Linked DNA regions of Homo sapiens: all the other regions are linked to region 2. The links come from fine-mapping of genetic effects on gene expression. A gene starts in region 2. Each other region holds a variant in brackets. All regions are shown on one strand. Distances are from middle to middle.

What was found.
Region 1: its variant is fine-mapped to the expression of MED13 in whole blood (INTERVAL, PIP above 0.99).
Region 3: its variant is fine-mapped to the expression of MED13 in whole blood (INTERVAL, PIP 0.96).

Annotation. Positions count from the first base shown.
Region 1 is chr17:61,825,907-61,833,906 of GRCh38, reverse strand. All of the region lies in intron 6 of BRIP1 (BRCA1 interacting DNA helicase 1), which reads left to right. Among named protein-coding and RNA genes, the nearest start is that of BRIP1, 34 kb to the left of the region's middle. The variant G/T (reference allele first, on the strand shown) is at 3,091.
Region 2 is chr17:62,060,609-62,068,608 of GRCh38, reverse strand. It overlaps MED13 (mediator complex subunit 13), which reads left to right and starts at 3,331. Exons shown (of 30, transcript NM_005121.3): 1 at 3,331-3,469; 2 at 5,308-5,542. The coding sequence starts at 3,404. RefSeq lists silencers at 2,541-2,620, 3,411-3,690 and enhancers at 2,671-2,930, 3,841-3,940.
Region 3 is chr17:62,012,959-62,020,958 of GRCh38, reverse strand. The region is part of intron 8 of MED13 (mediator complex subunit 13); the gene reads left to right. Among named protein-coding and RNA genes, the nearest start is that of MED13, 48 kb to the left of the region's middle. The variant T/G (reference allele first, on the strand shown) is at 4,778.

The sequences.
Region 1 (8,000 bases), 230 kb after region 2:
TTTTCTTTCTTTTCATGTTCAGCCAGCAGGAAAATCTCTGGCCTTTTAGAGAAAAAGTTTGCCAGCCCGTTCTATACTATTGTAATCTTGGTTAAGTTAGGCCAGAGGTTAGTGGAGTTAGTGTGAATCTCTTGCCTTGTCTGCAAATTTGCCTAGGGGTAGGATGATAGAATGGATGACTAATTGCTTGAGTATGTCCTTCAGCTCCAATAATTATGGCTTTTTTTTTTTTTTTTGAGGTGGAGTCTTGCTTTGTCACCCAGGCTGGAGTGCAGTGGTGCAGTTTTGGCTCACTGCAACCTCCACCTCCTGGGTTCAAGCAATTCTCCTGCCTCAGCCGCTCGAGTAGCTGGGATTACAGGTGCCTGCCACCATGCCTGGCTAATTTCTTTTATTTTTAGTAGAGACAGGGTTTCGCCTTGTTGGCCAGGCATGTTTCGAACTCCCAACCTCAAATGATCCGCTTGCCTTGGCCTCCCAAAGTGCTGGGATTACAGGAGTGAACCACTGTGCCTGGCCCAGTAATTATAATTTTTTGAGAGCTTGGAGAAAACATAGTATTCTCTATGGTGGAAATGTTTAATTCTCAAAAGTTTCAAATCTTCTTTATCATATTGAGTGAACTTGGTGAATATTTCAGAGAAAGTTGACAAAATTCAGCCACTCCTCTAAGTTTTCTTGATGTGTAGATACATTAATGAAATAAATATGTATAGCAACCCATCCGACATGAGTGTAGCTATTCAGTGGTGATAGTATCTGCAATTGTCATGTAGAACGTTTTCATTCATGGATACTGGGTGTGGAAAGATAACTTTACCTTTGAAAACTACTTCGTTAATTGACCAACTGTCTGCCCAGTAAATTTATCTTTCGGTTATTTTAGCTTTTTAAAAGTTTGGCTGTCACAAAATTATAGAGAAATTGGAAGTACAATCCAAATATCTTTTTTTATTGAGCCATTTAAGAGTATGTTGTTGCCCTGATGTTCCCTCACCCTGAAATACTTTAGTGTCTATGTCTTATAAGCAAAGACATTCTTATACATAATCACAATATAACCATAAGAATCAGGAAGTTAAAATTGATTCATTGTTGCCATCTAATACTCAGAACCGGTTTAAATTTTAGCAGTTGTCTTAATAACGCTTTTATAAAAGCAAAAGAATCCAGTCAGAACCATGCATTGCATTTAGTTATCACTTTAGTAACTTCTTCAGTCTGGAACACTTCTTCAGTCTTTCCTTGACTGTCATGATTTTGACACTTCAGAATATTACAGCTTATCTAGAATGTCTCTTAATTTGGGTTTTCTCATTAGACTGAGGTTATTTATCTTTGGCAGGAATGTCACAGAAGTGATGCCTTCTGCTCATTGCATCTTATAAGGTGGCACGCAGTTTCATTTTTTCTCATTAATGATTGATAACTTGATTAATATGATATCTGCTAGGTAAAAAATATAACTTTACAGTTATCTTTTTGCCTTTATAAAAGAGGACTTTATGGGGAAGAACTCTGAAATTATATAAATAACATGTCCTTACAAAAATTCAGTTTACTCATTTTATTTATATCTTTATGGACTTGTGATTTTCCATTTTATTCGGTGAGTTATAATTATTATATGATTTGTTTTGGTACTCAAGTGGGAAACCAGTTAAGTTGCTTGTGTCTTTCTGACATATATCAATCATTCTTGGAACGCTTCCTTATTTTTTGGCAAAAGATAGTGTTCCAGGCTCACCTTATATTTTCCCTGCCCTAGTCTCGGATTCAGACATTTCTCCAAGGAACCCTGGTTCCATTTAGTGAAAAATAACATTTGAACGCTGTGTTCTGGGAGTTAGTTTTGCTCATTGCTGTTGGAGTTGCTGCTCCAGGCCCTTTCAGCAGACAGCTAGAGAATATACACAATGTATTGTGTACACAAACCCAGACTCATAGACATATACATTTATGTCTATATTTTTTCTGTATCTGTCTGTCTGTACACTGAAAATTATGAGTGTTTATACCAATACATCCAGTTCCATTCCAGTACCAGAGGGCCCATTCTAATTTTCTTCCTTTCTGTATGTTTAACTGAAAAACCTTGTTCCTGATTCCTCTGAAAGTTAAAAACAGAATTACCATATGGTCCAGAAATAACATTTCTAGGCAAATATCCAAAAGAATTGAAAGCAGGTACTCAGATACTTGTACACCAGTGTTCATAGGAGTGTTATTCACAATAGCCAAAAGGTGGAAACAACCAAAATGTCCATTGATAAATAAACGAATAAACAAAATGTGGTGTATACATACAATGGAATATTATTGAGCCTTTAAAAGGAAGGAAATTCTGACATGTACTACAACATAGATGAAACTTGAAGACATTATGTGAAGTAAAATAAGCCAGTCATAAAAGGACAGATATTGTATGATTCCACTTATAATTTCCTTCCAGTTATTCATTACTATTATAGAAGTAGAATTCATTTTTGTATATTTACCCTGTAACCTGCAACTTGTTATATCACTTATTGGTTCTAGTTGATATTTTTGGAGTTTCTTTAGGACTTTCTAAGTACCCAAAGTTGCATGTTTCATTCTCTAGTAAATACTGTTTTACTTCTTCCTTTACAGTGTTTACCTTTCATGCAGTACAAGGCTGAATTAGAGTGATGAGAGTGGATACCCTTGCCTTGTTCACAACCTTGTGGTGGAAAACATTCTGGTCCCTCACTGTTCTGTATGACATTTGTGCTAGGTGTTCTGTCTATGCCCTTTGTCAGGCTAAAGAAGTTTCCTTCTATCGCTAGTTGGCTGAACATTTTTATAATGAGTGGATGTTGGATTTTATATTTAAAGTTTTACTGCATTCCTTGGTAGGATTATATGTTTTTTCTCCTATATCCTGTTGATATGGTAAATTACATTGATTAGTTTTTGAATGTTGGCCTGACTGTAAATTAGTGGAATAAAACCCACTTGATCATGGTATAGGACCCATTTTATATAATTGTTAGATTTGACTTGCTAAATTTTGTTAAGGATTCTTTCCATCTATGTTCATAAGAATATTGGTCTATAGTTTTCTGTAAT[G/T]TCTTTATCTGGCTTTGATATCAAGGTAATGTTGGCTTTATAAAATGAGTTGGGAAGTATTGATATTACTTCTTCCTTAAATTTTTGATAGAATTCACCAGGGAAGCCATCTTGCCCTTATGTGTTATTTTTGGGAAGACTTTTACTTTTAAATTTAATTTTAAAAATGAGTATAGGAGTATTCACATTTTCTGTTTCTGAGTCAGTTTTAGTAATTAGTATCTTTCAATAAATTTGTCCATTCAAGTTTTTGAATTTATTGGCATAATGTTCAAAATATTCTCTTATTTCTTTAAGTGTCTGTAGGATTTGTAGTGATATGCCCTCTTTCATTTCTGATATTCATAATTTGTGAATTTGTGTCTATCTCCTTTTTTTTGCTTAATCTAGAATTCATTTTGCTCAATCTGTAATAGGTAGTAGAGGTTTATCCATTTTATTGATCTTTTAAAAAGTTTTTGTTGACTTTCTGTTTTTCCATTTTCTATTTTGTTGGTTTCTGCTTTTTTTTTTTTTAATTACCATTGTTTTACTTTCTTTGGATGTAATTTTCTCTTCTGCTAGCTTCATAAGATTGAAACTTGGCCAGGCATGGTGGCTTACCCCTGTAATCCCAGCACTTTGGGAGGCTGAGGCGAGCGTATCACCTGAGGCCAGGAGTTTGAGACCAGGCTGGCCAACGTGGCAAAACCCTGTCTCTATTATAAATACAAACAATTAGCCAGGCATGGTGGTGGGCGCCTGTAATCCCAGCTACTCGGGAGGCTGAGGCAGGAGAATTGCTTGAACCCAGGAGGCGGAGCCTGCAGTGAGCTGAGATCGTGCCATTGCACTCAAGCCTGGGCAACAAGAGCGAAACTCCGTCTCAAAAAAAAAGAAAAAAAAAAAGATTGAAACTTAAATAGTTGATAACTGATTTTGGACCTTTTTTTTTCCTAAATAAAACACCAATGAAAGCTATACATTTCCCTCTAAGCACTTCTTTATCTGTGTCCCACAAATTTTGATGTTGTTACATTTTTTTCTGATTTCCCTTGTGATTTCTTCTCTGACCCAAGATTTATTTAGAAGTCTAAATAAACACTAACTAGGTGTTTTTTCCTAGATATTTTTCTCTTACTGAGTTCTAATTTATTTTTGTGTGGTTAGAGAATAGATTCTATATGATTTCAGTTCTTTTAAATTTGACGATCTGTCTTGGCAAATGCTCTGTGAGTTTTTGGAAAGTATGGGTATTCATTTATAAAAATCAGTTAGGTCAAGTTTGTTGATTATCTTGCTAAGATCTTCTGTATCCTTGCTGGTTTTTTTTGGTCTACTTATAAATTAATTAGAGAATACTGTAAGGGTCCTATAATTGTGGATTTGCCTTTTCTTTCAATTCTACCAGTTTTTGCTTCATGGGTTTTCATGGTCTGTTATTAGCTGTATACACATTTAAGATTATTATGTCTTCTTGATGTATTAACCCATCTGTCATTATGAAATGTCTTTGTTCTGAGATCTATTTTGGCTAACATTGATATAGCCACTCCAGCTTTCTTAGGATTAATGTTTCCATAGTATATATTTTTCATCCTTTTATTTTTAACCTATTTGTGTCTTTAGATTTAAGATAAGTTTCTTATAAATAATTGTCTTCTTTATTTATCCAATCTGACAACCTCTTCTTTTTAATTGGAACACTTATACTATTTACATTCAGTGTAATTATCACTGTGGTTACTATTTGTTTTCTGTTTGTTCCAACTTTTCTTTATTCCCCTTTTCTGTCTTCTTTGAATTAATTAAACATGTTTTAGGATTCTACTTTACCTTCACCACTGTCTTCTTAAGTATACCTCTTAGTTTTATTTTTGTGAGTTGCTTCATACTTTGCATCTTAAACTTATCACAGTGTACCTTCAAATAATATTTCAACTCACAAATAATGTGTAAGAACCTTCTGCCAATATACTTCCGTGTCTACTCTCCCATGTTTTGTGCCATTTTTGTCAAATATTTTACTTCTACATTTGTCATAGCCCTCACAGTGTTTTGTTATTTTTAGTTTAAATCATCAGCTATGTACAAATTTACAAATGAGGAAAATAATTTCTTTCTTAACCCTCCAGTTTTTCACTTCTGGTGCCCTTCATTTTGTAGGTCCAAGTTTCTGTATTGTGTAACTTTTCTATTAGCTTAAAGAGCTTTATTTAACATTTGCATTGCAAATATTTTTTCAGCTTTTTTTCTTACCTTCATGTTTTTAATGGTAAAATATATATAACATAAAATTTACCATTTATCTGTTTTTAAGTGTAAATTCAGTGGTATTATGCATATTTATATACTATTATCTAGTGCCAGAACCTTTTCATCTTTCCAAACTGAAACACCATACCCATGAAACAATATCTCTGTATTTCCCTATTGTCCAGCCCCAGGAAAAATGCCGTTCTCCTTTCCGTCTCTATGAATTTGACTACTCTAGATACCTCATGTAAGTGGAATCATGCAATATTTGTCCTTTTGTGTCTGGCTTATTTTACTCAGCATAATGTTTTCAAGGTCATCCACCATGTAGTATGTGTCAGAATTTTATTTCTTTTTATGGCTGAATAATATTCCATTGTATGGATATACCACATTTTGTTTGTCCGTTCATCTGCCAGTGGACATCTGGGTTGTTTCCATCTTTTTGCTATTTTGAATAATGCTGCTGTGAACATTGGTGTACGTATCTGTTTGAGTCTCTGTTTTCATTCGTTTGGGTATACACCTAAGAGTGGAATTTCTGGACCATATGGTAATTCTATATTTAAGTTTTTGAGGAACTGCCAAGCTGTTTTTCACAGTGGCTGTACCATTTTACAGTTCCATCAGCAATGCACAGGGGTTCCAGTTTCTCCACATCTTTGCCAACCTCATTATCTGTTTTGTTGTCCTTTTTAAAGAATAGCCATTTTTAAGGGTGTGAAGTGGTATCTTGTGTTTTTGATTTGCATTTCCCTAATGATTAGTGATGTTGAGCATCTTTTCTTCTGCTTATTAGCCATTTGTGTATTTTCTTTGGAGAAATGTCTATTCAAGTCCTTTGCCCTTTTTTGAGACAGGGCTTCACTCTGTCGCCCAGGCCGGAGTGCAGTGGCACTATCTCAGCTGACTGCAGTGTCCGCCTCCCAGGATCAAGCAGTCCTCCCACCTCAGCCTCCCGAATAGCTGGGATTACAGGTGTGTGCCCCCACGCCTGGCTAATTTTTTGTATTTTTAATAGAGATGGGGTTTCACCATGTTGGCCAGGCTAGCCTTGAACTTCTGGTCTCAAGTGATCCTCCTGCCTTACCTCTCAAAGTACTGAGATTACAGGTGTAAGCCACCACTCCCAGCCCCATTTTTTTTAAATTTAATTTTTATTTTAAGTTCAGGGGTACATGCTCAGGTTTGTTATATAGGTAAACTTGTGTGGTAGTGGTTTGTTGTACAGATTATTTTGTCACCCAGGTATTAAGCCTAGTACCCATTAGTTATTTTTCTGATCCTCTCCCTGCTCCCACCCTCTACCCTCTGATAGGCCCCATTGTGTGTTTTTCCCCTTTATGTTTCCATATGTTCTCATGATTTAGCTCCTACTTATAAGTGAGAACATGCAGTATTTGGTTTTCTGTTCCTGCATTAGTTTGCTAAGGATAATGGTCTCCAGCTCTATCTAAGTTTCTGTAAAGGACACAGTCTCATTTTTTTTATGGCTACATAGTATTCCACAGTGTATATGTACCACATTTTTAAAATCTAGTCTACCATTGATTAGCATTTAGGTTGATTCCATGTCTTTGCTATTGTGCATAGTGCTTCAATGAACATACGTGTGCATGTGTCTTTATAATAGAACAATTTATATTTCTTTGGGTATATACCCAGTAATGGGATTGCTGGGTCAAATGGTGTTTCTGTTTTTAGGTCTTTGAGGAATTGCCACACTGTCTACTGTCTTCCACAATGGTTGAACTAATTTACATTCTTACCAGTAGTGTGCAAGTGTTCCTTTTTCCTTTTTCTCTGCAACCTCACCGGCATCTGTTTTTTTTTTTTTTTTTTTTTTTTTTACTTTTTAATAATAGCCATTCTGACTGGTGTGAGATGGTATCTCATTGTGGTGGTTTTGATTTGCATTTCTCTAATGATCAGTAATGTTAGCTTTTTTCCATAGGATTGTTGGCTGCATATATATCTTCTTTTGAAAAGTGTCCATTCATGTCCTTTGCCCACTTTTTAATGAGGTTGTTTTTCCTTTGTAAATTTAAGTTCCTTATGGAAGCTGGATATTAGACCTTTGTCAGATGCATAGTTTGCAAAAAATTTTCTCCCATTCTGTAGGTTGTCTGTTTACTTTGTTGATAGTTTCGTTTGCTGTGCATTAACTCTTTAATTTTATTGGGTGTCATTTGTCAATTTTTGCTTTTGTTGCAATTGCTTCTGTTGTCTTCATCATGAAATCTTTGCCTGTTCCTATGTCCAGAATGGTATTGCCTAGGTTGTCTTCCAGGGTTTTTATAGTTTTTGTTTTACATTTAAGTCTTTAATCTATCTTAATTTTTGAATACGGTGTAAGGAAGGGGTCCAGTTTCAATCTTCTACATATGCCTAGCGAGTTATCCCAGCACCATTTACTGAATAGGGAATCCTTTCCCCATTGCTTGTTTTTGGTAGGTTTGTTCAAGATCAGATAGTTGTAGGTGTGACCTTATTTCTGGGCTCTCTATTCTGTTTCATTGGTCTATGTATCTGTTTTTGTACCAGTACCATGATGTTTTGATTACTGTAGCCACGTAGTATAGTTTGAAGTTGGGTAGTGCGATGCCTCCAGCTTTGTTCTTTTTGCTTAGGGTTGCCTTGGCTTTTTGGGCTCTTTTTTGGTTCCATATGAGTTT
Region 2 (8,000 bases):
CACTCTGTCGCCCAGGCTGGTGTGCAGTGGCGCGATCTCAGCTCACTGCAAGCTCCGCCTCCCGGGTTCACGCCATTCTCCTGCCTCAGCCTCCCGAGTAGCTGAGACTACAGGCGCCCGCCTTTTTGTGTTTTTAGTAGAGACAGGGTTTCACCGTGTTAGCCAGGATGGTCTTGATCTCCTGGCCTCATGATCTGCCCGCCTCGGCCTCCCAAAGTGCTGGGATTACAGGCGTGAGCCACTGCACCCGGCCTCCATTACTCTTTAAATCACACAAAATGTCATTTTTACCGAATGTAAGTGGTTACTGATACGTTCTTTGTGGGCTGAAAATATTTATTTCTTCTCTTTCCCTTCTCCCAATGATTCCATTCCCCTCACAACTGGGATCCCCCCCATTCTAATCTGCTTCTCCATTCTCTCAGTCCTGTCTTTCTCTCTCTCTCCTGCTCCCTTCTGCGATCCTCCATCAGACTTTTTCTTCTGGGTCTTCCTCCCTTCTTCGCTTCTGTCTCCTTGTCTCCCTCTTCTTTTTGAAAAGATTGACATTCAAACAGAAAGGTCAATCAAATGTTACCTCCTACTGGTAGGTTTCAGGTATATTCTACCTGCCATTGGAATCCTGAGGATGGTGCTCAAGTCAGGGGGTGGGGGCAATGGGAGGGCAAGACTTCTAAGGAGAATGGAGACCCCTTTAGATGTGAGGAGGGCATTTCAGCCTGAGGAAAGCAGCGGAACAAAGATCTGAGGAGTTTTTCAGGGAACGGGAAATGGGCAGAGGAGCGCTTACCTCATTGGATCTGGGGATTGCTGTCTCCTGGTGCTGGCACTCGGTTATAAAGGATGCCAACCTTAGTTGATTTGAGCTCCTGGATTGAATTAGTCCTGGTTGCATAATTGACTTTGATATGTGGACTTTGGGTTCGAATTAGGTTTAATAAGATTTAACTGCTTCAAAGGGCTTTATAAGAATTCATTTTATCCTTCAAATCTGATTTCAAATGCTACCTACTTTATGACAACTTCTCTAAGTTTGATGCTCTTCTTCTAGTGCACTTACTATGCCATAGTAGGTACATACTTTATTCAAGCAATTACCCCCATTGTATTTTACCTTATTCTGTAGGAAATGTTTCCTTTAGTGCCTCTCTTCAGGAATCTTGAGGGACAGGCAGGTATCTTATTCCTATTTGTATCCTAGGCCTAGCACAGAGCAGGAACACACTCAATTGAGCCAGCAGGTTCTCAATGATTTTTAAAATTACATTAATAATTAACATTAAGTAAGCACTGTGGCAAGCACTGTATCTACATTGTTTCATTCACCAGTCATTTTAGAAGAAAAGTACTTTTATTACCCCCATTTTACAATAACCGAGAGAAAGCAAAATTAATTTGATCTAAGGTCAAATATGATCTAAGACTAACTAGTGAGGGGCAGAACTTTTTCTCCAGGCTTTGGGCTTCAGATCTGGGCTCTTCACCACCACAGATGAACAAGTGGATAAATGAGGACTTCTTTTCATTCCGTGGCTGAAGAAGTGACATGGAAGAGTCTACCATTCATTTTACAGATACAATTATGTATCTGTAATACATAATACATAATTATGTATCTGTAATACATAAAATTACAGTAAGTCCTAACTCACTGATGTTTCTAACTTCTGAATCATCTTTTTCTTCTTCTTTCTTTCTTGCAATCCTAAAACCGTCAGAGAAACTGTTTTGAACTCATATTGAAGTGTAACCCATCCAAGCACTGGGTGTTTTATGGGAAAGAGAATAAACCTTTTGTTTGGTTCTTACTTCTTACCACCCATTCATTTGTAACTATACAAATATCAAGCACCTACTGTGTGCTAGGAACCTTTTTTTAGGCACTAGAGAGACAGAAGTAAACAACAAAAAAATAGTGAGACCTTTACATACACTAGTTCTCCTGCTCGTCACAATAACTATATGAGGTAATGATGACAACAATAATAGTTAACTCTTAACAGTGCTTATCTGTGCGGGGCACTGGGCTACCTGCTTAATTTGTATTAACTCATTACAATAAGCTTGTGGGGTAAGGGATATGTTTTCCCCATTTTACAGATGAGTAAAGACACAGAGCAGGAAGTGATTTGCTCAAGCTTGGAACCCAGGCAGTGTGGCTCTAATTCCCAGTCTATTAACTACAGGGCAATATTTTGTTTCTTAAATTTATATCTTCATATCACAACTTTTAGGTTGAGGAGTCTTATCCCCATCCAGATCATCTGACTCCCAAATCCAGAGGTTTGCACCTGCACCCCAGCGGCCTCGCGAAATAAATGAGAATGTCTTGGAATTTTTGCCAATACTTTCTCTTCCAAAGAACTCAAACTGATTTCCACGTAATTCTCACTGATTTGTGAAATGAACCTTCCTGGACTGTAAATTTCCCCGCAAAGAGAGGGCCAGGGCCCCGGGTCGTTTTATACTGGCCGGGGCACCCAGCAGATGGCGCTATGTTAGTGGCCACCAGCTGGCTGCCCCGTCCCCCGAGCTCACCGCCTCCGCCGAAAGCTTCCCGGCCCTCCCTCGCTCACTTCTCTCTCCCCCTCCCAACCGAGCCCGGGCCCACGTGACCTCAAGGCGGCCAATGGGTGAGCAGAGAGGGCGAGCTGGTCCCTGTGGCCGCCATTAAAGCGAAGGGAAAACCCGTGAATTCGGATTAAAGGGGGAAAAACACCGCCCGCTGGGCCCACAAAATGGGGGAGACTACGGCGTCCAGCCGGTGAGGCCACAGGAGGGCAAACTTTAGGCCGGCTTGGCCCAGGAACGACACGAAGACAGAGCCAGAGAATGGTCTGAGCCCGCAGACGCCGCCACCACCTCCGCCGCTGAGGAGACTCTGGGCTTAAGGACATCGCCGCTGCCGCGCCGGGGGCCTGGGCTTCTCTCCCGGTTCTCGCCCTTCCCGCTCCTGTGCGGGCGCCTCTCCGCCCGGGAGAACCGTCCTGGGCTTGGGCTCTGCCGTCTCGGACTTGATTTTGATTATTTATTGTGTAATTTATTATTTTTCTTGTGGTAGGGGCACACATCCCCTCCGTCCCCCAGAGAGGGACGAGCGTCTGCGGGATCCGCAGTCCGGCCCGCCAGGCGAGCGCGGCGCGGCCCTCCCGCCTCCGGCCCTCGGCCCCGGGCGGCTGGGTGCCGGCCGGGCGGCGGGGGCTGCTCGCGGCGGCGGCGGCGGCGGCGGCGGCGGGGGGGTGGGTGGGGAGGGCGGGCGCCCGGCGGCCTCCTCTTCCACCGCCCCCCCAACCACTACCCCCCCCCCGGCCCTCCCCGGTGTCTGTGTTTCTCTCTCTGGTCGGAGGCGGCGGTAATGGCGGATGGTGGGTTGTGGCGCCGGCGGCGGCTGCTGTGAGGGACGATGAGTGCCTCCTTCGTGCCGAACGGGGCCAGCCTGGAAGATTGTCACTGTAACCTCTTCTGCCTGGTGAGTGCCGGGGCCGGCGGGCGCCGAGGGAGGGGGGCCGCGAGGTGCGCCCTTGGGCCGTGGGGGAGGGGGCCGGGTCTGGTCCAGATGCCCGAGTTCCCGGGCGAGGCCCAGCCGGAGCCGGCGCCCTGCGAAGCTCCGCGGCCAGCCCCGGGAGGCGGCGTTCGCTCTCCTACGGTCCCGGGCTCTGTTTAGGGGAGTGTTGGCATTTTTTCTCGTCTTGTTTCGGACTCTCCTTCTCACCGTAGTCTCGTCCTCAACTTGAGCTCCTTATCTGGCAGGACAGTAACCTTTCCCTCTTGTCTTGCTTAACTGTTGCTTTTCTCCTTATTGGCCCTGTATCCCTGCTTCACACTTTACATTATTGCCCCTGCTCCCCACCGCCTTTATGTCTTACCCTTTTAATTTGGTTTCCCCATGTAAACAGGACCCCAGAACTTAAGCCCTAGAAACCTGTCTTGGTTTTACATTTTTTTTGTATGAGTCAAACTAACGCCAGGTTAGTTTCTTTCTTGGGTGACTTAAGATCTCTCTGTAAAAGCCAGTAGGTGCCATTTCATATGTTTTCTTTTTAAACTTTGAAAACAGTTTGCCATTTTTGACAATTTCTAGCCATCTTGCTTTTATTAGAACATGATGTTTTTGTGAGAGTGAAGGGGGCTAGTGGACGAGGTGCTGTGGTTTTGCACTGTTTCTATATTTATTGTGTTTTGGTTGCTTTTTCAGAATGTTTTGAGCAGGCTGCTCCCTTGTTTGATTGAAATGGAAAGTCGAGAGAAGCGGGATGTAGGGATGATCATTGTGTAGGTTAGCCCAGGTCTGGTAACATCCAACAGTTAAGGCTTTCAGAAGTACCAACTGTTGCAAATAACTTGTCCTGTATGGGACAGTAGCTGAGCTTCATCAATGACTTTAAGTTTGGGTGACTTTACTTTTTCATTTTCTCCTTTGTGCTATGAGAAATATTAAGAGTATATGATAGGTAAGTGAGTTAAGTGGGAGGAGCACAACTAGTTGGCAAGTGTAAACTGCCAGTCATGTATCAGCAGTTTCATTTTTGGCACCTTATGCTTTGCTCCTTTAAGTTAGATTAAATTACTGAATTCCTCTTGTCGAATTTCTTAACGCCCATGCTAAATTGAGATCTTTAATACTCTATCCTCGTCTACAGTATGTTTTTCTTTTCAATGTCCATTAATCAGCATCTCTTCACATGTAATAAGACATACACCAGGTTTTATATTTCTATCTTATCCAACTCAGTCTATTTTTGGTACTTTTAGGATCAGTTCTTTGAAGATAGACTAGCACAAATCTGACAGTTCTTTGTGAGTAGCTATTTGACTTTTCCGACAGGGGTGTGTGTGAAGAATTAACATAGATTTTTTCAGAACTTGTTCAGATGTCTTTTCATTAGAGACGTTACTTCTGTAAATGTGGAATAAAAACCCATGATAGGGTCTTTAATAATTGATTTTCAGTTAAAAGTTTGACACCAGTGAACAAATGTGACCAGTTAGGACAGAGAAAAATGTACTCTGTTTGCATATTGAAGTGTGTGTCTATATTTAACATCATTCAGTTTCTTCTGTTTCTACTTGGAGTACATATTTGCTTGCTATTCAGTGACATGGTGGTGGTAATTTTTAACTGTATTCTTCTCCCTAAAATTCTTGGTTGTTGAATTATAAAGTCTTTTTTTGTTCTAATTTGCAGTCAATATCTCAAGCATACATTGAAAAATTGTAATGTCTTAATGAAATAAGAGACATCATATTGAGTACTTTTGACTTTGAGTGAATATGCAGTAATAAAACTTAATGCTTTCTTTCCTTCAGGCTGACTTGACAGGAATTAAGTGGAAAAAATATGTATGGCAAGGCCCAACTTCTGCCCCTATTCTGTTTCCTGTGACAGAAGAAGACCCCATTTTGAGCAGTTTTAGTCGCTGCCTTAAGGCAGATGTACTTGGTGTTTGGCGGCGAGATCAAAGACCTGGAAGAAGAGAATTGTGGATATTTTGGTGGGGTGAAGACCCCAGTTTTGCTGACCTTATTCACCATGACTTATCAGGTGAAAGAAACTTTCCATTTCTAACTAATGATATAGCAACATTGTATACTTCTCCCAGAATGTCATATGTATTACAAATTAAGTTTGTTTTTGTGGGAGACTTAGGAGGCCAGATAAAAATTCAGCTTCATTGTTTTATTTCACCATGATTATTTTATTTTACTTAAATTATCCATGTTGTTATAGCTGGGTTTTTAAGGCGTGAATGACTTTCTCCTTCCACCACCTCTCTTCTTAATTTCTCACAGGTAGTTAGGGCCCGAAGAAGGCATGTTACATTAATCTAAAAAAATGGAATCAGGAAACAGAGTTCCTAACAAAGTCGTGTAATAGTTTAGAAGCCAGATGTAACTTTTGAGTCACTTCAGCCACTGCTGAAGTTGAGTCTTTTGCATTGAATAGGCAGATGATTCTAAAAGTACTGGAAATGTAACTATCCGTGTGTGTGTGTGTGTGTGTGTGTGTGGTGTGTGTGTGTGTGTGTGTGTTTTAAGGCATGTATTTTGTTATTGTCATTTGTGCTATTTGATTAACTTATGAAGGCATATGTTAATTTAGTTATTTTTGGAAAGTGACTCATATACTGTTCTGTCAAACATAATAAGAGAAAAGTGCCAACTTGTTTAGCTTTTATGGGACATGGGATCATAATCTAAAAGGTTACACAAACAATTTTATTGTGAGCAAATCAATGTGATTACTTCCTTATTTTCTTGACTTTTAGGACCAAATGCTACTTTAGAAAGAGAAACTATAGCTTTTCATATAATTACTGAAGCTTTAAATTGTGAAAGTCAGTATTAACTGAATCTTAGATAATAGGAATATAAATGATTGGTTGTATGCTATAAGGTTCCAAAGACTTCAGTAAGATAGTTTGATAATGATTTTTGACAGATAAACTTAGGATTTCTAGATAATTTTTTTTAAGTTCTTATTTGAAATTGAGTACTCTGAAGTTTTTGTTATTGTATCTCTGACCTATAGGATCTATTTTATTTTTGGATAGAATGTATTCTAGGTGTCTGTATCTTGAACTGGTACTTAGTAAGACCAACATTTATGTAGGAATGTACGTGTTACATTTGTATGTTTTGATAATTGCTTTTCACATTCTAATGAACATACTCTCCAGTGTTAATTGTTATTTTTGAGAGTGACTGCAATTCTTCAAGAAAGCTTTCCAGCTTTTGTAGTTTTTCTAATAAGATGCCTGCTGCAGAGTCCAGTCCTTAGTTGTGTGTATTTAATGTAGTTCTAAATGTGTAAAGTGATGTGTATATGTATATACATATATGTACATATACATGATGTATGTATATATGGTAGTTTTAGCGAGACAATACTTTCTAATTATGCCAAAAGCTAAGTCCGCCAGCCTCCTTTTTCTTTCATTGTTTTGGATATAGTATTTGAGTTATTTTAATCGTTAAGTGGTCATAAAAATCACCTTACTAGAATGTTTGGAGACTGTATAACATTGTTGAAAAACTATAAACTATTGATAAAATATATTTGTTGATAAAACATAATTATTGATAAAACTATAATGGTGACTTAGGGGCTTTGGTCTTCTTAATAAAGTTGGCAGAGCATCTAAACAGACTAAACAGATCTTTTTTTAAGATTCCATGAAATACACTTTGTAGAATCAAAGATAATTTTAAGAGATACATAATGTTTAATTTTTTTTTTCTTTTTTTCTTTTTAAGTAGAGATGGGGTCTTGCTGTGTTGACCAGGCTGGTCTTGAACTCCTGAACTCTAGTGATCCTTCCATCTTAACCTCCCAAAGTGCTGGGATTACAAGTGTGAGCCCCTGCACCTGGCCTAGTTTTACCGTAATAGAAAAAATATTGTGAAAGTTAAAAGACTATTAAAGTTAGATGTGAGCTGCTTTGATGGATATTGTTAAAAGTCAGTTTTGTCTTCTAGGTTTCATGTTACCAGTCAGATATGTTTTCTCCACTGAAACTAGGTTACAGTCTTAAACATTTTTCTCTAGCTTTGATTTTTAGCGTAATTTTCAAAAATGGTAGTTACTTGTACCTTTAAAATAGTGATCAGCTGGGTGCCATGGCTCACTCACGCCTGTAATCCCAGCACTTTTGGGAGGCTGAGGCAGGCAGATCGCAGGGTCAGGAGATAGAGACCATCCTGGCCAACATGGTGAAACCCCATCTCTACTGAAGACACAAAAATTAGCTGGGCATGGTGGCACGCACCTGTAGTTCCAGCTACTCAGTAGGCTGAGGCAGGAGAATTGCTTGATCCCAGGAGGCGGAGGTTGCAGTGAGCCGAGATCTTGCCACTGCACTCCAGCCTGGGCGACAGAGTGAGACTCTGTCTCAAAAAAAAAAATAGATAGTGATCTTGAACGTGAATGAAAATAATTTTGGGAGGTTGGTTTTTTTTTTTTTTTTGAGACGGAGTCTCATTCTGTCCCGCGGGCTGGAGTG
Region 3 (8,000 bases), 48 kb after region 2:
TAAATGGATTAAGGGCAGTGCAAGATGTGCTTTGTTAAACAGATGCTTGAAGGCAGCATGCTCATTAAGAGTCATCACCACTCCCTAATCTCAAGTACCCAGGGACACAAACACTGAGGAAGGCCGCAGGGTCCTCTGCCTAGGAAAACCAGAGACCTTTGTTCACTTGTTTATCTGCTGACCTTCCCTCCACTATTGTCCTATGACCCTGCCAAATACCCCTCTGCGAGAAACACCCAAGAATGATCAATTAAAAAAAAAAAAAAAAAAAAAGAAAGCAGGCCAGGTGCAGTGACTCACGCCTGAAATCCCAGCACTTTGGAAGGCCAAGGCGGGAGGATCACGAGGTCAAAAGATCGAGACCATCCTGGCCACCATGGTGAAACCCCATCTCTACTAAAAGTACAAAAAAAAATTAGCCGGGCGTGGTGATGCACACCTGTAGTCCCAGCTACTTGGGAGGCTGAGGCAGGAGACTCGCTTGAACCTGGGAGGCAGAGGTTGCAGTGAGCCGAGATCGTGCCACTGCACTCCAGCCTGGCAAAAGAGCGAGACTGTCTAAAAAAAGAAAAATAAAAAGCAAACTACAGTATAAAGTGGGTTACAGAAAGTCTCAATGATGTATTCATATGTAAAAAATTAAAGGAGCTGCACACTTAAATGTGCACTATTTATTGTAAGTTATACCTCAATAAAAGGTTTTCTTTAATCTTCATAAAAAAAAAAAGAAAGGCTGCTAAGTAAAAAGCAATACATTAAATTTCTCATGTTAACATTAAAGTACTGCATACCTAACATCAATAGGAAAAAATAATCTAAAAGGATTACTCTGTTGGTTTGTGCTTTGAGGACAATTTCTTTTTTTTACAAAGATTGCTCAATGTGGTTGTGTTCTAGCATGAAGTTCAGTTGTTTGGCCTTGCGCAGTGGTTCACACCTGTAATCCCAGCACTTTGGGAGGCCGAGGCGGGCGGATCACAGGGTCAGGAGATCGAGACCATCCTGGCTAACGCAGTGAAACCGTGTTTCTACTAAAAATACAAAAAAATTAGCCAGGCTTGGTGGTGGGCGCCTATAGTCCCAGCTACTCGGGAGGCTAAGGCAGGAGAATGGCGTGAACCTGGCAGGCAGAGCTTGCAGTAAGCCGAGATTGTGCCACTGCACTCCAGCCTGGGTGACAAGAGCGAGGCTCCGTCTCAAAAAAAAAAAAAAGAAAAAAAGAAATTCAATTGTACTCTCTAAAGAAACTAGCTTTTAGAAAGAGGTCTGTATAGAAGAAAAGGGCTGATTTAATGTTGTCAAAAATTTAGAGAACTGCTGCTATTAGTATGTAGCCCCAGTTAATAGTTTCTTACTCTTAATAGCTGGGTAAGTGAATGTATGGCCATTTACTTTTCACATCCCTTGTACACTTGGGACATAACTAAATAGTTCACCTCAGATGAATGGAGATCCTATTTCTCCTACTGCCTTGCATAAAATAGACTAATTCTCAAACTTTTTTGTCTCAGAACTTATTTACAGTCTTAAAAAATTACCGAAGACTGCAAAGTACGTTTATTACATCTATTTATATTTTAGAGAAATTTTAAAGCACCACTTATTAAAAACAATAATTTCAGTGCATATTAACATGAATAAAATAGACATCCACTATATTTTCCAAAACAGTAGCCAAAAAGCTAATTGAGTGGCATTGTTTTACAGTTGTGCAAGTCTCTTTAATATTGAGTGTAGTAAGATAGTTGAATTCTTATATCTGCTTCTGCATTCGGCCTATTGCTGGATATTGTCTTGGTTGAAGTATATGAAGAAAATCCAGCCTCATGTAGCTATGCAATTGGAGAAGGGAAGAGAGTATTTTAATAACTTTTTCAGATAATTGTGGATATTCTTCTTTGATACTACACCAAAAATTGACAAGTGGTAGTTTCTTAAGGGTTGGTTGGAATGTGGAATCTAAAGCCCTGTCAGTGGTTGTACTTCACTAATAACTGAATGGATCTTTCGATTTTGTAACATCATGCATTGGTCATTTGAAAAATATCAGTTCACTGGGTTATATAGATCTGAATGTTGGCACATTTTGTTATATATACTCATCTCTAAATATCCGTGTAGGATCGATATTCTAGAACCCTCACAGATAACAAAATCTACGGATGCTCAAGTCCTTCATATAAAATGAGTTAGTATTCATATAACCCGTATGCATCCTTCAGTATACTTTTTTTTTTTTTTTTGAGATAGGGTCTTTGCCTCTGTTGCCCAGGCAGGAGTGCAGTGGTGTCATCTTGGCTTACTGCAACCTGCCCCTCCCTGGCTCGAGCGATTTTCGTGCCTCAGCCTCCCAAGTAGCTGGGACTACAGGCATGCGCCACCACGCCCAGCTAACTTTTTGTGTGTGTGTATTTGTAATAGAGATTGGGTTTCACCATGTTGGCCAGCCTGGTCTTGAACTCCTGGCCTCAAGTAATCCACCCACCTCAGCCTCCCAAAGTGTTGGGGTTACAGGCATGAGCCACTGTACCTGGCCCTTCAGTGTAAACAATCTGTAGTTTGTTTATAATACCTAATACAATGTGTTACGTAAATAGTTGTTATACCGTATTGTTTTTACAATTTATATTATTTTTTATTCTTGTACTGTTAACTTTTCATTTTTGAAAAATAATATTTTTCATCTCTGGTTGGTTGAATTTGAGGATGTGGAATTCAGCCAATGCAGAGTATCAAAATATTTCATTCATTAATATTGCCAGTGATCTCACCTGAAAAGTATTTAAGTATTAGAAAGCTCAAGCACTGTGTCAGATAGTTTTCCAAAATTCTAAATATTGCAGTGGTACCAACTGTATTAGCAGTAGTAGTCATTGTTTAGCAGTCAAGCTCAAAATGATTAGTTCTTCCTTAAATGACAAACTCATTTTGTTCATGTTTGATAACCTAATAAACAAATCTGCCAAATGACCAAATATGGATAATCTTAGTTTATCTACCAGTCCTTTGTTCTTCAAATGGTGTTTCATGAAAAAAGCTAGTTTCAGCTTGTAACTCAGTCGTACAAGCGCTTTTCCTCAAAATAGCCATTGTACTTCAAATCTATAGCAGAAATGCTTTATATGCACTACCTATTTCTTTATACAGAGTGTAAAAAGATTGTATAAGGATTGAGATTAATAAAAATTATTTTTGCTGTCTTCATGAAGGACATTCTTAAGTGATACTATCATAAAAAACAACAAACTGAATGTGTGGTGGTGGAGAAAGCAGTGACTACTACTGCTAGTACAGTTGGTACCACTCCCTTTGATTCATGTTCAGTTGCTAGAAGTTTTGCTGCCTATTGTTTTTGCACCATCTTTGTAAATTTCAACATAATAAAAAAGTCAGATACTGTTTTGATGCTATTATGAAAATAGTTTTGAACCCCTGTAGCCCCTGAAAAGGAGGGTTCATAGACCATACTTTGAATTTAGTAGACAAATATTTGAATAATTGATGAGTTAATGATACTGTTATTTTTTCCTTTTTATATTCTTTTTTTCAGTTTCTTCTCTTGATTTAGAAGTTTGGTGTTCTATTTTTGTTCTTTTGTTAATTGAATTAATCATTTATTATGCCTGCTTTCCTTAAAGTCTAAAGTTAGAGTCTACGCTCTTTTTATGGAATGAACAAAGACCTTGGAATACTTTAATCTTGCTCCTCAAATCTTTCATGCTTTTTTTTTTTTTTTTTTAGCATTTTAGTTCTACTCTGTTTTGTTATTAGAAACTTCAAACATGGACAAAAGTAAGCGAATTGGGCAATGAATTCCTGTTTATCAACCATTCGTATTCACTTACTGTGTTTGCTTCAACTAGACCTTTTCTCTTGCTGAAGATCTTTAAAATTTGTTTAATTTACTTTATTTATTTATTTATTTATTATTATTATTATATATTTTTTGAGGTGGAGTCTCATTCTGTCACCCAGGCTGGAGTGCAGTGACGTGATCTTGGCTCACTTGCAACCTCCACCTCCTGGGTTCAAGTGATTCTCCTGCCTCAGCCTCCTGAGTAGTTGGGATTACAGGCGCCTGCCACCACACCCGGCTAATTTTTTGTAGTTTTAGTAGAGACGGGGTTTCACTGTGTTGGCTAGGCTGGTCTAGAACCCCCGACCTCAGGTGTTCCGTCCGCCTTGGCCTCCCAAAGTGCTGGGATTACAGGCATGAGCCACCATGCCCAGCCCAATATATTTTATTGAACTTGATTTATCTAAAATATTATTTTGACATACAGTAATTGTGATGAAACATTAGTGATATTTGGCATTTCTTTATTTTATAACATGTCTTGGAAAATTGGTATTTTACATCTATAGCACATCTCAATTTGGACTAGCCACTTGTCAAGTGTCTAATAGCTACATGTAACTTGTGGCTACCATTATTGGATAGTGCAGCTTTATAAATTAGGTAGAAATAGGACTGAAGGGCTGGAAGATACAGAAAAGATGAATTTCTATTCAATATTAAGAATTTACCTTCTAGCAGTTGGAGCTATTTGATGAGGGGGATGCATCTCCTTATACAGTAGTATGGTCCTTGTCATTGAAAGTATTCAAAAAGAACCCATTCAAGCCAATGAGGTGGCTCTTGCCTGTAATCCCAGCTACCTGGGAGGCTGTAGTGAGCGCTAATCGCGGCACTGTGTTCCAGCCTGGGCAACAGCATGAGGAAAAAAAAAGAGAAGGGATTATTCATACGTTGGGTAGGACCTGCTGGGTTTTTTTT[T/G]TTGTTGTTGTTCTTGGTTTTTTGTGTTTTTGAACAAATTTCTGTGTTTAAAAAAAAAAATGCTCTTTTACAAAGTTCAGGCTGGGTGAGTGGCTCATGCCTGTAATCCCAGCACTTTGGGAGGCTGAAGTGGGTAGATCACTTGAGATCAGGAGTTTGAGACCAGCCTGGGCAACATGGCAAAAACCGGTCTCTACTAAAAAAAAAAAAAAAAAAAAAAAAAAAAATATATATATATATATATATATATATATATATATATATATGTGTATAGTGTGTATGTGTGTGTGTGTGTATATATATACACACACACATACACACTATACACATATATATAGTGTGTGTGTATATATATAGTGTGTATGTATATATATAGATATATATAGTGTGTGTGTATATATATATAGTGTGTGTATATCTATATTATATATATATATAAAATTAGACTGATGTGGTGGCAGGTGCCTGTAATCCCAGCTACTCGGGAGGCTGAGGTGGGAGAATCATTTGAACCTGAGAGGCAGAGGTTACAGTGAGCGGAGATCACGCCACTGCACTCCAGCCTGGGCAACAGAGCGAGACTGTCTCAAAAGTTAAATAAATAAAATTAAAAGTTCAAACAGTACACAAGAATATAAAATTAAAAATTAACAGGTTCCCCTCTTATGTATGTAGGTCTGCCTGTTGCTTTCTTTCACACAAATGGAATCATGCTGTATTTCTGCAACTTATTGTTTTTTTGATAAACAGCCTGGGTGTTTATCCATGTTAGCACTTACAGATTCATTCTTTTTAAAAAGTTCATAATACTGCATTTTATAGATATGTAATACTTTATTTGGCAAATCCTTATGCTATGCTCTTGATAAAGGTTTTTAAAGCAAATCTTAAATATTACACTTCTGCAGTACTTCAGTATGCGGCTCTAAAAAATACGAATATCTTCTTACATGAATATAATTCTACCGTCATACCTAATATTATGATACCTTGTCCAGATTTTCTCAGAAATGTCTTTTTGTAGATAGTTTATTTGACTAGGATTCAAACAAGGAGTAAACATTTGGTTGTTATGTTTTCTAAATCTCTCCTTTTAGTTGTCTCCTGCTCCCTTTTCATGACATTGACTCGGTTGGTAAAACTAGGTCAGTTCCTCCTATAGAGTGCCCCACATTCTGGATTTTTCGTTTTACTTGTCATGTAATTTTACTTCTTTCAGTGTAATTTAATTTCTTCCTTTTTCCTTTGCATTTCTATAAATGGAAGGTAGCTGTAGAGCTGAGCTATCCAATACTAGCTGTGTTAGTAACTACTATTGGCTATTTAAATTTACAGTAATTGGATTTAAATACAATTAAAAATTCAGTTCCTCAGCTGGGTACAGTGGTTCATGCCTGTAATCTCAGCACTTTGGGAGGCTCTCTTGAGTCCAGGAATTTGAGGTTACAGTGTGCTATGATTGTACTGCATTCCAGCCTTTTAAGAGACAGAGCAAGACTTGTCTCTTAAAAAATTAGTTCCTCAATTGGACTAGCCACAATTCAAGTACTCAAGAGCCATATACAGGCTGGGTGCAGTGGCTAATGCCTGTAATCCCAGCATTTTGGGAGGCCGAGGTGGGTAGATCTTTTGAGGTCAAGAGTTCAAGACCAGCCTGACCAACATGGTGAAACCCCACCTCTACTGAAAATACAAAAATCAGCCCAGTGTGGTGGCGGGCACCTGTAATCCCAGCTACTTGGGAGGCTGAGGTGGGAGAATCGCTTGAACGCAGGAGCCAGAGGTTGTGGTGAGCTGAGATCGTGCCACTGCACTCCAGCCTGGGTGACAGAGTGAAACTGTGTCTCAAAATATATATATATATATATATAAAAACATATACAGAACTTCCCATCATCATAGAAAGTTCTAGACAGTGCTCAGTGCTGATCTGGGGGCTTGATTACTTGATTAGACTCAACTTCAATATTTTTGGCAAGAGTACTTCATAGATGGTGGCTGTGTTGCTTTGTATTATGTTACGTCAGAGAGAGACAGTATCTGGTTGTCCCATATCTAGTAATGTTAAGATTGATTAGGTGGGGATCAGCCTGACCCTTTCATTGTATACTTTTTTTGTTTGTTTGTGTTTTTGGTGGGGGGTGGGACAGAGTCTCGCTATGTCGCCCAGGCTGGAGTGCAGTGGTGTGATCTCAGCTTGCTGCAACCTCCACCTCCTGGGTTGAAGCGATTCTTCTGCCTCAGCCTCCTGAGTAGCTGGGATTACAGGTGCCCACCACCACGCCCAGCTAATTTTTGTGTTTTTAGTGGAGACGGGGTTTCACCATGTTGGCCAGGCTGGTCTTGAACTCCTGACTTCATGATCCACCTACCTCGGCCTCCCAAAGTGCTGGGATTACAGGTGTGAGCCACTGCATCTGGCCTTATTGTATAGTTTGTAATAATGTTGACAATGAATAAAGACAATTTATCTTCTTCCTCCGAAATCTCTGACCTCTTTCTTGCCTTATTGCATTGGGTAAAACGTTCAGTAAAATGTTAAATGTTGAGAGCTAATATTCTTGCTTTGTTCTTAATCTTGAGAAATTATTCATGCTTAAACATCAAGTAAGATATTAGTTGTAGTTTTTCATAGATATCCATCAGATCAAGCAAATTTTCTTTTATTCCTTGCTTGCCGAGTGTATATAAATAGGGGTTGAATATATTAATAGTATTAATAGGGTTTTTTCTATAGTTATTGAGATAATATGGTTTTCTTTTATTCTGTTAATGTGATGCATGATATTTTTTTCTTTTGAATGCTACACCATACATTCCCAGAATTAACTTCATTTGGTCATGATGTGTTATTCTTTTATATTTTGCTGGTTTGAGTTGCTGATATTTTGTTAATTATTTACATCTGTGTTCTTAAGAGATAATGGTCTATGGTTTTCTTTTTGTGTAATATCTTTGATTTTAATATTAGGATAATGGTGGATTTCTCCTATGTCCTTTTGAAACGAGTTTGGTTTTTTTTGATAACTTTGGTTCTTTTTTTTCTCTATGCACAATAAGATATCTCAGGCTCTGTACAAAAAGGTGTCTCGGCCGGGCGCAGTGGCTCACGCCTGTAATCCCAGCACTTTGGGAGGCCAAGGTGGGCGGATCACGAGGTCAAGAGATCGAGACTATCCTGGCCAACATGGTGAAACCCCGTCTCTACTAAAAATACAAAAAT